Linked DNA regions of Homo sapiens: all the other regions are reported to be linked to region 3. The links are microRNA targets in miRTarBase. Many come from high-throughput screens and were not tested one by one. Region 3 holds a microRNA gene; each other region holds the end of a gene's coding sequence. Distances are between the middles of the regions.
The links. Region 3 holds the annotated microRNA hsa-miR-216b-5p (AAAUCUCUGCAGGCAAAUGUGA, at 1,985-2,006, opposite strand). A microRNA usually pairs through its seed, bases 2 to 8, with sites in the 3' UTR of a target mRNA and lowers its output. Matches are read on the target gene's strand: a 7mer-m8 pairs with bases 2 to 8, a 7mer-A1 pairs with bases 2 to 7 and ends in A, and an 8mer does both.

Region 1: the mRNA of COL4A4 is a reported target of hsa-miR-216b-5p. Seed matches in the 3' UTR shown: 7mer-m8 at 1,120-1,126, 7mer-m8 at 1,204-1,210 and 8mer at 1,453-1,460.
Region 2: the mRNA of C1GALT1 is a reported target of hsa-miR-216b-5p. Seed matches in the 3' UTR shown: 7mer-m8 at 804-810 and 7mer-A1 at 1,929-1,935.

Annotation. Positions count from the first base shown.
Region 1 is chr2:227,003,745-227,007,993 of GRCh38, reverse strand. COL4A4 (collagen type IV alpha 4 chain) reads left to right here. Exons shown (of 48, transcript NM_000092.5): 48 at 406-4,249. The coding sequence ends at 669. Among named protein-coding and RNA genes, the nearest start is that of COL4A4, 160 kb to the left of the region's middle.
Region 2 is chr7:7,243,194-7,247,442 of GRCh38, forward strand. C1GALT1 (core 1 synthase, glycoprotein-N-acetylgalactosamine 3-beta-galactosyltransferase 1) reads left to right here. Exons shown (of 4, transcript NM_020156.5): 4 at 331-4,249. The coding sequence ends at 534. Among named protein-coding and RNA genes, the nearest start is that of LINC03016, 9.8 kb to the right of the region's middle.
Region 3 is chr2:55,998,780-56,003,028 of GRCh38, forward strand. It overlaps MIR216B (microRNA 216b), which reads right to left and starts at 2,016; the gene lies at 1,935-2,016. All of the region lies in intron 2 of MIR217HG (MIR217 host gene), which reads right to left. The region is part of intron 3 of LOC105374690 (a long non-coding RNA gene); the gene reads left to right.

The sequences.
Region 1 (4,249 bases), 170 Mb from region 3:
CTGGCTCATTCACCATTTCCTAACACCTTCTCCCGCCATTTCTCTCTGGATTGGACAGTAATTCTGAGCACTCTGCGCTTAGGACATAAGGTTACGGGGACTGTTGCAAACCATAGCCTGTTGGGATGCAGGGCCATTATCTTTTAAAAACACTTGTGATTGATTTTGATCACATTGGTAGAATTTAGAAGATGAGTTTGCTTCAGCCATCGGTGAAACTGGAGCCAATTTGTGTGCATACTTACCATGCTGAGTACGACTCCTTTTCAGCGCTTGTATTTTGTTCTTTATGGAATAATCTAAGGAAAAATGTTAAGATCAGACCCAAACCTGGGTGTGTCCCTGATTGGGTCTGGGGTTGTCTGTGTGTGTCTGAGCCCTAATTCTCTCTTGTTTTCTGGGTAGCACACAGGAGCTGGGGACCAAGGAGGAGGGCAGGCCCTTATGTCACCTGGCAGCTGCCTGGAAGATTTCAGAGCAGCACCATTCCTTGAATGCCAGGGCCGGCAGGGAACTTGCCACTTTTTCGCAAATAAGTATAGCTTCTGGCTCACAACGGTGAAAGCAGACTTGCAGTTTTCCTCTGCTCCAGCACCAGACACCTTAAAAGAAAGCCAGGCCCAACGCCAGAAAATCAGCCGGTGCCAGGTCTGCGTGAAGTATAGCTAGAGAATGCGAAATTCACCAACACGTGGCCAAGAGAAACTTCCTAGGGGGCTAAGACTTCCTAGACTGTGCTAAGAGATGTCATGGTGCTCATTTTGGACTCCCTTTCAGTGGTTCCTTCTGTTTTGTCGTGGTTATTCCCAGAGTCCTCTGGTTCCTTACACATTAAGCAAATGCTGCACAGATGGATTTGTTTGGACCTCCCAATCTAGGGAGCCTAGATACTCTTATTTTACTGAGGATGATCGAAGAACTGGCTTTACTTAAAAATATGCTAATTCTCAGAAAGGCAAGTAGATGATAAAGGCCAGATTACAAATTACATTACTGAAAACTTCATTCTTGGGTTAACAGTATCTCAAACAATTGAAGTCAATTACTCTATAATACAGTGGGCTTCTGGATGGATTTTATAGGAAAAAATAAACAGGTCAATGAATGAAACTAGAAAGCAGAGATTTTCAACATTTCAAAATGATTTCCTCTGTAATCTATTTTTCCATATACTTTAAATAATGGTAAAACCATGACGCAAAGAGAGATTTTTTTTTAAAGAAGAAAAAAAAAAATTCACACTGCCAGCGTTAACAGTTCCTTTCAAAGGAGAATGAATCATGATGGCAGGAAGGCCCACAGTCGCCGTATTCCAGAGATGCGACATTAGCATAAACACATCACAGATGAATATAAAACATTATGTTCTCTTCTGCATTTTTCAGAGAATAGAAATGCCTACTTTGGCAACCCTTTTGAAAAGTAGCAATTATGGAAAAAAAATATTCAATAAGAGATTAGGAGCCTAAAAGCTATTAGTGAATATTAAGGTAGTTATTCACAAAAATTGACTCCCCATTGCAGTGAACTTCCAGACAGACTGCTTTTCCCCAGTCGGGGTCCGGCGTGTCACAGGTGCGTGCGTGCTAATGGGACTGACGCTACATGGGGCTCACTCAGGCAGGCACGCGCTTCATACAAAGCATCTCACTCCCCTCCCCAGGAGAGCCTGCACAGCTTCTTGCACTCACAACGGACACTTTGCTCCACACACATAATGGCAGCTCACACAGGGACGTGACAGAGCTATCATTATGCACTTGGGAGAAAATTAAGGGCCGATTTAATTAAACTTAGGTAAGAAGATTCATTTAAGTCAGGGTTACCCCATCAGGAGGACATGGCACTATCTTTAAACGAAACAAAGACAATTTATAATTTGAATTTTATGCTCCCGTGGTTGGCTGTTACAGGAGCATCCCATTTTGCCAATTTTAAAGACATTCTTATATTTCATATCAGTCTTGTACCAAGGCAACAGTTTGACATTTGGCATTAGTATTTTCTAAAAAAGTTTAGAATGTGTGTCAATTTATAATGATTATTTTTTTCTGTAAAGCAAAAGATCCCTTTTTCTGTTTTGCTAGGAATTTGGTGATCTAATCCTAAATTTAAAAGATTTGTTGGAAAAAATTTTTAGGAAACTCACCTTCCTCATCTAAAAGAAAAAGGCATTTTAGAGAAAACTAAAGAAATTTCTCATGAGCGTGACACTCATTTTAGTGCTTTGTTTCCGTGCACTTAAAAATAATTGAGAAGAAAAACTCAATTAAAATTTTGTTTATAAGAAATGTTTTCCTTGCCAAACCTTGATTTGTAATGAGCTCTTATATGCAGAACACATTTCAAATGAGTTTTGCTATGGGCTGCCCCCAGGGTGGCAATTTATTTTAAGAGTATTTTCTGGTAAAAAGAAAAATGTGTATTTTAAGATGAAATATTTTCTTGATGTAGCAGAATATTTCCTAGTTCATTTGACCCATTTGATATTTTTTAAACCATGCTCTGGCATGTTGAATATTTTTGTGCACCTAAAACTTAAGCCAATTTCAATCTTATTTGTGATTACCTTTCTCCTTCCCAAAAAGCTTTATCTATTACCAAAAGTCAACCCTCCTAAAAGTTCAACCTGTTCATCTTGAACTTGGCCTGAGAACATTTTCTGGGAAGAGGTAAGGGTGACAAATGGAACATCAGAAACGTATCTTGCTTGCTAATTATTTTAAACACTTTAATGTTGGTATTAGAATATTATCTTCATAAGTTAATAAATAAGTAAAAAAAAAAAACCCACACAAAGACAGGCTAAATTATGTAGACAGTTTACTCCACAGTGAGCTTGGGAAGGTATCAGACTGTTCAAAATGTTAGTATTACAAGAGCTGTCTCTAAATGCAGCATTAACACTGCCCTCTAATTTTACAAAAGTATTTTAAAGGATCAAAAGGGCGGAAAAATAACTTCTTGGAATAGAAGATCCTGTTACCTTAAACCATTATTTTCTTCACCTGGTTATATATCAATGTGCCTTCAATTACCCTTTCTCTGTGGAGGTGATGAACAAAGCTTTTAAGTTGTTCTCCTAACCCATTATTGGAGATGATCCTTATCAAACCCTTCTCTCCCTGCCTCCCCACCAACCTTGTAGACTGGAACGTGCCTAGATTGCCCTAATGGGAACTGTTCTGTTCTGTGCCCGTGCTGGAAATCTGGGATGCTTCCTTCTGGGTTCTGATTCTCAGTGAGTGGAGCCCATTCATCCAGGCAGGTTTCCATGCTATGAGTGGCCCTTTCGTTCTGCTCTCACACTCCCCACATTGAAAGCTGAGTCATCGCTGCTTTGGATGGCTACCTCCTCTTTAGCCCCGTGCCCGTCTCACACAGCCTTTGTTTTCCACCTCCACCCTTGCAGTAGGCATCTCCCAGTTGGTGCCTTAGTTTCAAATCCCAGTTGCCATCTAAGATCCACCCAAACTTGATTTTGTCACCCTCTGGATTAGAATCCTTCTGTGACTCCGCTGCCCATGAAGTCCAAATGACTTCCTATGGGGTGAAAGGTCCAGTGGGGACTGTTCGAGGGTTCCCTCTAGGAGTATTTCCTGTCATGATGAACTGTGTGCAGCTCTGCAGACACTCCCAGCACCTCTTCGACTTTGCTCCTGCTTCACCAGTGATGTCCTCCCTGGGGTCAGTTTACCCTGCGTGGGAGGTGAATTCCCTGGGGGAAACTTAGGCTCCCTTCTGCTGCTCTTGTGCAGTGCACGGGGCTGTCCTCATTTTCTCCGTTCCCCATTGCTTCTTTAATGTCTCAGTGCACTTCCTTCATTCCATTGCCAAAATGCAAGCCCCTTGAGGGCAGGGACCATGCTTGACTCGTTTTTGTATGCCTAATGCCTAGCACAGAGTTGAACACATTACTGCCAATTCATTTTTTTCAATGACAATTCCATAAACATCATTAGGCATTAGGTGTTCAGCTCTGCATATAAGGTCTTCATCAGCAAGACGGTTACAAGTATAAACCATTTCCTATTTCAGAATATTTTAATATTCAACATATTTGTATACCCACATTCTCTTGTTACAATTATTGCCAGAAAGCCAATTGATAAGCTTTCAAAATGGGCTTATCACACCCCTCCAAAAATAGATTTTTGTTTTTTCTATAAACAGAAATTTCAGAAATGAGATTTGAGAGATCCGACTGAGAAGACCCTTCAGTAAAATGTGACATGACTTACCTTATGCT
Region 2 (4,249 bases), not on the chromosome of region 3:
GGAGATTTCTCCTTGTATAGCTGCTCCTTTGATTTGAAGAAATCTCAGTAATTTTATCCGCTAAAGAGTGTGAGAGAATATTGTTTCATTTAAAAATACTTTCCACAGTTTCACTTGGTTTCACCAATTTCAATTGGTTTTAAATCATTAGGATGTCTAAGTAAACTATTGATTTCTTCCACAGGTCTAGTACATTAGGTTCCTCTGCTTTACCTTGCCATCTTTAATGTTTGTATTCTTTTAAAATTAGCTGGTCCTTTATAAGTATGTAAATATTGTAGCTAGCAATGTGCTGTTTATTAACAATACCTGTTTCCACTACTTTTTTAGGGTCCTGGTTGCTGCTCTGATCTTGCAGTTTCTTTTCACTATGTTGATTCTACAACCATGTATGAGTTAGAATACCTCGTTTATCATCTTCGTCCATATGGTTATTTATACAGATATCAACCTACCTTACCTGAACGTATACTAAAGGAAATTAGTCAAGCAAACAAAAATGAAGATACAAAAGTGAAGTTAGGAAATCCTTGAAAGAAAATCATGAATGAACAAAGGTAATATGTCTAGCACTGCACTGAAAAAGGACTTCTGCATTTCTGACATAGAACACTGGAATCCCAGTGAGGAATTCTAAGTGAACATTCCTTATAGAAACCTTTCACATGAATGACTATAAACTGAAGCTTTAAATGAGCTGTGAAGTGTGTTAAAATGTGTTTTGATACAGTAATATATAAATATGTCTATATATATGAGGAACTTGTGTTTTTTAAATGGTGGCCAGGTAGAGGAACTAGAAAAGAGATTTTGTTGCCTGTTTTCTGACCATCTGTGTTATTGTCACTGAGAAACTAAAATAGTAAATTTACTAAAACTACACTGCACCATGTTAGTAATAAACAGATCTGCCTTAAAGAAAAGAAAATTTTAGAAAGAAATATTGTTGCTCAGTGTTGTTAATATAGCTCAAGAATTGAGTTTATATTTGCAGTATGCTATAAATGATACCCCCCTACCACACCCACACACACAGTTTTTGTCTAATGAAAATGTTGCTGTGATTATTTATAATTGGTAGTATTTCTTCCAGAAGAAGCTAAAATAAGACTGGCACTTACCCTGAAGTGCATTAATAAAACCACACTTTAAAATTATCATGGGCCTTGACTATATTATATACTTGATTCTAATTAGTCATCTTTTACGCAATCTCTGTTGTCTCTTTTCTAAATGTGTTTAGCCACTCTTGAATACCATTCTCCACTATTAACATTAATTTACTCAAACCGTTCATAGCATTCTGTAAACATGTATTTTACATATTTGTTCCCAAATTTGCCCATTGTTCATTATGGGTAACTAATAATAAATTTAATGCTGTTTCAGGATGCTTTTCTTATAACAGTGCCACTCTCAGGAATTACTAAGTGACATTTTAAATTGATATTTTAAACTCTTTCCAACTACATAGTTATGGTTTATTTCATTCTCATCCTGTTGGGATGAGAACTTGTTTGTGCCTTTCATAACTTGTTTAAAGCAGAGTTTTAAAATTAGTTTATAGGATCTGAGGTGGCTATTAGTTACAGTGGCAAGATTATTTAGAAAGCAAGATTTTGATGAGAATTAAAAACAATAGAAAATGTAGAGTGCTTAAACAAAAATGTTATATTTTGAAAGAGTAGATACTTAATTTATAAATAACAGTCTGAAGGTTGGTGCTATTTTGGGATAATTGTTTTGCTAATGGATAATTCTAACAATGCAGAATACCTAGTCAAGACTGTCATCAAAAACATTCACAAATGTTTCATTCTATTTTTAGTGACTCTGTTTAAAGAGTTTCTGAAAGGAAAGAAATTTTTTATTTTTATTATCTTTAGCAGTACTGAGTGTCATAGCAGAATATTTTACAGACTTTCTATGAGATTATTTTTATGGTACAAAGTATTTACATTTCCCTCATGTTTATCATTATGCCAATTTTACATGGCAGTCATGCCACTGACTCTGCTATTTAGCTAAGTAATTTCTTTTTTCGGAGACTGTCTCACTCTGTCTCCCAGGCTGGACTGCAGTGGTGCGATTCTCCTGCCTCAGCCTCCCGAGTAGCGGGGATTACAGGCACGCGCTGCCACGCCCCGCCAGTTTTCATATTTTTAGTAGAGACAGGGTTTTGCCGTGTTGGCCAGGCTGGTCTTGAACTCCTGACCTCAGGTGATCCACCCACCTTGGCATCCCAAAGTGCTGGGATTACGAGCGTGAGTCACAGCACCCGGCTAAGTAATTTCTATTTATTGTGCCAAAACATGTCAAAATCATGACCTCTTTGAATGGTATATTTGAGAGGATGTTCATTTCATTGGTTAACCATGGACTACTCTGTCCACGTAGTGAAAACATGCACCAGTTTTTACCTATTATCATGGTAGTATCATCTGCCAAAATTTCAAGGCATTCATTTTATTCTTTGAACAACTCTTCACCATGGTGTGGACATGAATTTTCATATGTGTTACTTGACTAGAAGTATAAATGGTTTACTATAGATATCCAAAAACCTTGAGATTTGCTCATAGGAAATGAATATTGTGATGAATCCTGGGCTCTAGAGTCAGACTTGCTTGGGTTTAAATTCTTGCTCTAACACTTACTGTTTTTGTAACCTTGAGCAATTTTAATCTCTCTGTGTCTCAATTTCCTCATCTTTTAATTAGGGATGATAATACTACCTACCTCACAGGATTTTTATGAGGATTAAATAAATGTAAGGTTTTTAGAACATTGATAGGGAGCAATAAATAGAAGATTGTATTATTATTCTGTTACCTTGGAGTGTAAGTACTGCATTTAAGTGAATGAAAAATTTGCTTTGACCAGATACTGAAGGAAATAAGTAATAGCTAGTATTTATCCAATGCCAACTGTATGCTAGGTACTGTGCTTAGATAATCTGTGTATAATAGTGTTAATCCTCAAAATTTGGGTGTTATACCCCTATTATAGATAAGGAAACTGAGGCTCAGAGACAAAGTAACTTTGTCACTGTCACAAAGCTAGTAAGTAACAGAGGTAGGATTTATATTCAAAACCCTGTGTGTTCATTGGAACCGTATCAGGCTTGGGGCTATTCATGTAGCATTATTTCCATTTTTATGTATATGATATATGACGTCTGATGCATTGGCCAGTAATAGTCAAATTAACCCAGCCAAATTGTCACAGTGATTCTTAAACTGTGGTTCTCACACTTGCCCAGGATGTTGTTAAATGCAGATCTGAAGACCCCAATCTCAGAAATTCAAATTTAAGCATGGGGCCCAAGAGTATGCATTCTTACCAGATACCTTGGGCAGTGACTGTCAAAAGTCTGGTCCCAACAAACAGCATTAACGTCACCTGGGAACTTGTTGGAAATGCAGCCTCTCTCGGGGCCTCATCTCAGATCAGATCTACTAAATCAGATACTCTAGGGGCAGGGGCAGGGGCAGGGGCTAGCAGTTGTGTTTAAGCAAACTCTGCAGGTGTCTTTCTTATCCTAGTTTGAGAACCAATACCCAACAACCTACGTGATTTTGGTGCAAGTAGTGTTTGAAACACACTGAAGATTACTGCCCAATTACTAAGACATTTTTCAAAAAGCATGTTTTAAATCAGTGTAGTCCAGGATCACACTATATTAAATATAAAGATAACTTAAAGGATCATTGGATCATTCATTTTGGCCAAATTTTTAGCTTCTCCAAAGTGACTAACATCAGGGCCTACAATAAAATCTGTAATTCTCCAAGTTTAGTAATTTTATATTGAGGCAGGAAGGGCTCATTAAGTACTAATAAGTACATAATTTATTAAAAACATACATAAGTGTCATCAAAAAGGTCCACAATTGTTAGTAAAAAAAATTAAATTGAAGTAGTAAATGCTGTTTTATAACATACATTTTTCTGCTAATTCATTCTGTTTTGTGTGACCTAATAAAGCAAAAGAAAAATAAAAAAGCAATTCTCCAAGTACTTCATAGAGCACATAAAACCAGATTTCATGATGATGATGTATTCACTATCTTTTAGATTAAGATCTTTGTTATTTGGTAAATGATTTCAGTATGGTTTTAAAACATAAGGCTTTTGATGTCTTATGTTCTCTAATAATGGTATGCTTGTATTTTCTAGTGGGAAGTTCATAGATAAAGCAGATTTTTGTCCCAGTTTGCTTTCAAATATAAATTTCAGAGGGCTTTTTC
Region 3 (4,249 bases):
AGAATTATGCACATTTAGGTAATTTATTTCCTTCCAATTTATGTCTTTTTGAACTTCAATTTCTTTGTTAGGAGAAAAAAAGGACTATAAAATAGGAGTGCCAATAATACCTTCTTCACTGGGTTTGTGAGAAAACTAAGTTAAATAATATGTGTAGAGTGCTTCATGCAATAGTGACTATTGGTCGTTGTTATCAAATACTTAAAACACTCCTACTGCCTGGGAGGATGCTAAATTCCTAGCAATGTTTTTATTGTTTCCTTTAATGAAACCTCATGTTTTGAAATATTTTGTGTAACAAATTGCATATATGGTTAATAATTTTTTTCTTTTGTTACTATCAAAGGCATTTTAGACTGTTAGTTGGAGCTTCTGATTAGCAATTGCATCAATATTGAGTTGAATTAAATCCAATGAAAGCAAAGAAACCTGATATTTGGAGAGCCTTCTTATCCTCATCTAAGGAAATGTATTTCTTTCAGGTCACCTGAAGTGGTGAAGTGTCTAAAACATCTTGTTGATCTCCAGCACTGAGTTTACAGACTCTAGACATAGTTGGGCTCCACTTTTCAATGAACAAGCCAAACCTTATTATTATAATCTGAGTGAGTTGACATTTTGTGTGTGATCTAATTCAATTTTTGAATGTTACAATTTTTTCCATCACATCATGGGAAATTGGTGTGGTCCAGAAATAATCCAAATGAATTCACTAAGAATGAAACTGAAGATGAATTTTTAACATGCTACCAGAAGTTATTGATTAACAGGCATACCAATGTTTCAGATACTAACAGATACATAACATTATTATAAATATATAAAAATCAAATTATGGCTTTTATTCATTGTCATTGAAGACCAATTTCAATAATAATTTTTAATACTTTTTATTTTTTGTTTTACCTTTTAGTCATGACATTTTTATTATATTAGAGGAGAAGGGAAAATAATTTTTTTAGTATATAGAAATTGGATTGCTTACAGACAAATTAAACTTAGGAGGGAAAATTATAAAGGATGTTGAAAACTATAAATTTAAACAAACATCTCTTATTTTGACAGGATATGTTTCAGAGAGAACAAATCTTGAGTCTTTCAAATATTACTGGGCCAGACTAAAATAATTTCATTGTGAGAGCATTTTCCTTCTCTGTGTGCAGTCTAAGTGCATATTTTGTGCTCTTAGGAATAACTTTCCAAAGCTGTGCGAAGAATGTAGCAATAAAATCTAATAAGAATTATGGCTCATGACTTGAATGATGTCAGTACCCTTTTAATCCTCCCAAACATGAAAACGTTTTCTCCTCTTAAATAAGATTTCTTAACTCCTTATTTCTAAGGAAATAAGTACATCTGAGCAATTCTATTGGCAAAGTAAGAGTTAAATGAAAATGTTTCTTTCCATTATTATTAATGCTTATACTTATTAAGACCACTACTTTAGAAATGTATTCTAGACAATATTTTTATGAATACATATTATTTTGTCTGATTATTTTAGTGTTCCAGTTATAATCTTTTGCTCTCTCTAAGCCAGTGGTTCTCAAACTTGAGCATGAATCGGAATTACCTGGAAAGCTTGTTGAAACACAGATTGCAGGGCCCATTCTGAGTTTCTGATTCAGGAGGCCTCTAGTGGGGTGCAAGAATTTGCATTTCTAACAGGTTCCTAGGTGACGCTGCTGATGCTAGTCTGGGAATCAAACTTTGACAACAACTGCTTTAAGCCATGTTACAAACAACCTTCTTATTTTAAAATTTAATTTAGTGGGATTCAACCATCACGAGGCATGTAGTCACCTTGGTTTAGAAGAAGTTAAAGTTCAGTAAGTGGGCTATAGCTTGGCTTTTTGGCCATGCTAGATTTATTCCAGGCCAAAGAACTGCTTATAACAAAAGCATAGTTGATGAAATGGTTCGATGCTTGAAGATGTCAGACTGTAGAATCTCTACGGGTAAGTGTGTGATTTCCTCAGTGACATCACATTTGCCTGCAGAGATTTTCCAGTCTGCCACTTTGAAGTTGTACTTAAGATAGAAAAAAGTTGTCGTCATTCTACAGTGATCTTTCTGGTCTTGCTAAATTTTAAAACTATATTTATTCAAGATTAAAATTGATGGGAAGTAGGAGTTATAGCTGGGATTCAGATAGGTGCATAAATGAGAATGGATACTCTCTAATTTTGCCACACATCTCCATAGAGAATGAAGGAAAAGATGAAAAGTGAAGTTTCCCAAGCCACAACCAGTGGATGAGACTAGTATACCTTGGTCATGGAAGAAAGACGAGGCTTCTTATGCCATCATTCATTTTTTTTTCTCAAATTATGCTGTTTGTTTCATATGTGCTTATTTTACCAGTGTGTTAGTCACACCAAAAGCCTTATGGTCAATCCAGGTAAATATCCTTGCATTTCAAGCAATTTTATCTAACGTTAGACTTTGCAGTTGAGTTTCTTAGTCTTTTGTAATTTAGTTATGCCTAAGTAATAACAAGATTAGATGAGTAGAATGAGGAGATGTGCTTTTTACTTTTATTCTCTCCATCTTTCTTCTGCCTAATAATGGTCTTATGATAATACCATCACCTGCTGCTAATCTTTAAAGTGCTGGAATAATGCATGATATGCAATATTTACTTTAGAGCTCAAAAATCTAACTTGTGAATATTGTGATATTATTAACACTACAATGTCGGGTTTTGGGTCAATGTCAACTATAAATTTATTCCAACATTTTCCTAGAACAGGGACTTCATATATTTTGTTCTCTTCTATATCCCAGCACATGGAATAATTCCTGGCCTATAGGAGGTGCTCAGTAAACATTTATTAATGATTGGCTATTACTTAGGATGTTTTTTGCAAATACTTGTTTACCATTAGAAAGGAAATATATATATATATATTCACATATTTTATTGATATTACAGTGACATTTAATTTCAGACAAGATAAAATGAGAGAATATTTAAATATGTAAATCTTGGTAATAAAGAATCCTCCTACAATAAAATGCATTATAATACAATTTTTTGTAATACTTGGTTTAGGAGTAGATTAATAACTTCCTTAAAGTATAACAATGTTATATTATGTTTTTCAGGCATGTAGTTGAATTTCAGATGATGAGTTTTTTAGTCCGGGTTACGTCCAAATTTATGTAATAATGAATCACAAAATTAGGGTTGATTATGTTTACACTACACAACACAGTGTCTTGATTATCTGTTAATCTGCTATACACACATCCTTGGACCTCAAGATGACTTTAAAAGCGTCCTCTCAATTGCATTCTGACTTTCCTAAATAAACCATAAATAGAAACTTAACAGTAAATCTCTCATAAGTGTGCAGAGGATATAACAGGTGGCTCTGATCTGATGTAAGTGTAGCTAAAATAATGTGTTGAAATAATTGCAGCTTAGAAAGATAGAAAACATCTGGGCTTCAAGGGAGAACACTTCCATCCTTTTTGCTGCTTTTAAAAATAGAGAACTACATCATTCTGGGTTGCATAGAAAGAAGGGGCTGTGTTAGAAACTCTATGATCCTCAGTCTGTTCATCTAAAGCTCCAAAGGATGAGACTACTATACCTTGGTTGTGGAAGAAACACTAGACTTCTTAGGCCATCATTCATTTTCTTTTCTCAAATTATTATTTTTGTTTATTTGTGCTTGCAGGGCCTGATTAACAGTGTCACTTGTTCTCTTGAAGGAAAACTGAAGTTGTGAATGATGGAATTATAGTTGCCATTTCTCCAATTGTTGATATCTTGTTTGTTCCTTTGCTCCATGGGAAGGCATGGATGGAACAGAGCTTTGAGACAGAATCCTCATTTTAGTTGCCTCTATGAGTAGGCTGTTTAGAGGCTGCCAGCCTATAATATGGGGCTCTTGTTAGTTTAAGTACTTAGGTAGAAAAAGACCCTTCTATAAATGCAAATTTTTAATATCTAAGCATTATCTGCCACCAACATTAGTACAGATGAATTTATAAGATTATTTCTAGCAGACAGTAAAGACCTGAAAAAAAAATTGAACAGTACAGTTACATCTTAAAAGATCAGAGGTCAAGATCTACCCAGTGATTCTCAACGCTGGCTGTATATCAGAAACATTTTGGATTTATGGAGAAGACAGATTTCCAAGCCCCAACCAAGACCTACCTCCTGAACCTGAACTTACAAGATGTGGACTGGAGAAGTCTCTTTTTTAAGAAAAAAATTAGTAAACTTTATTTTTTA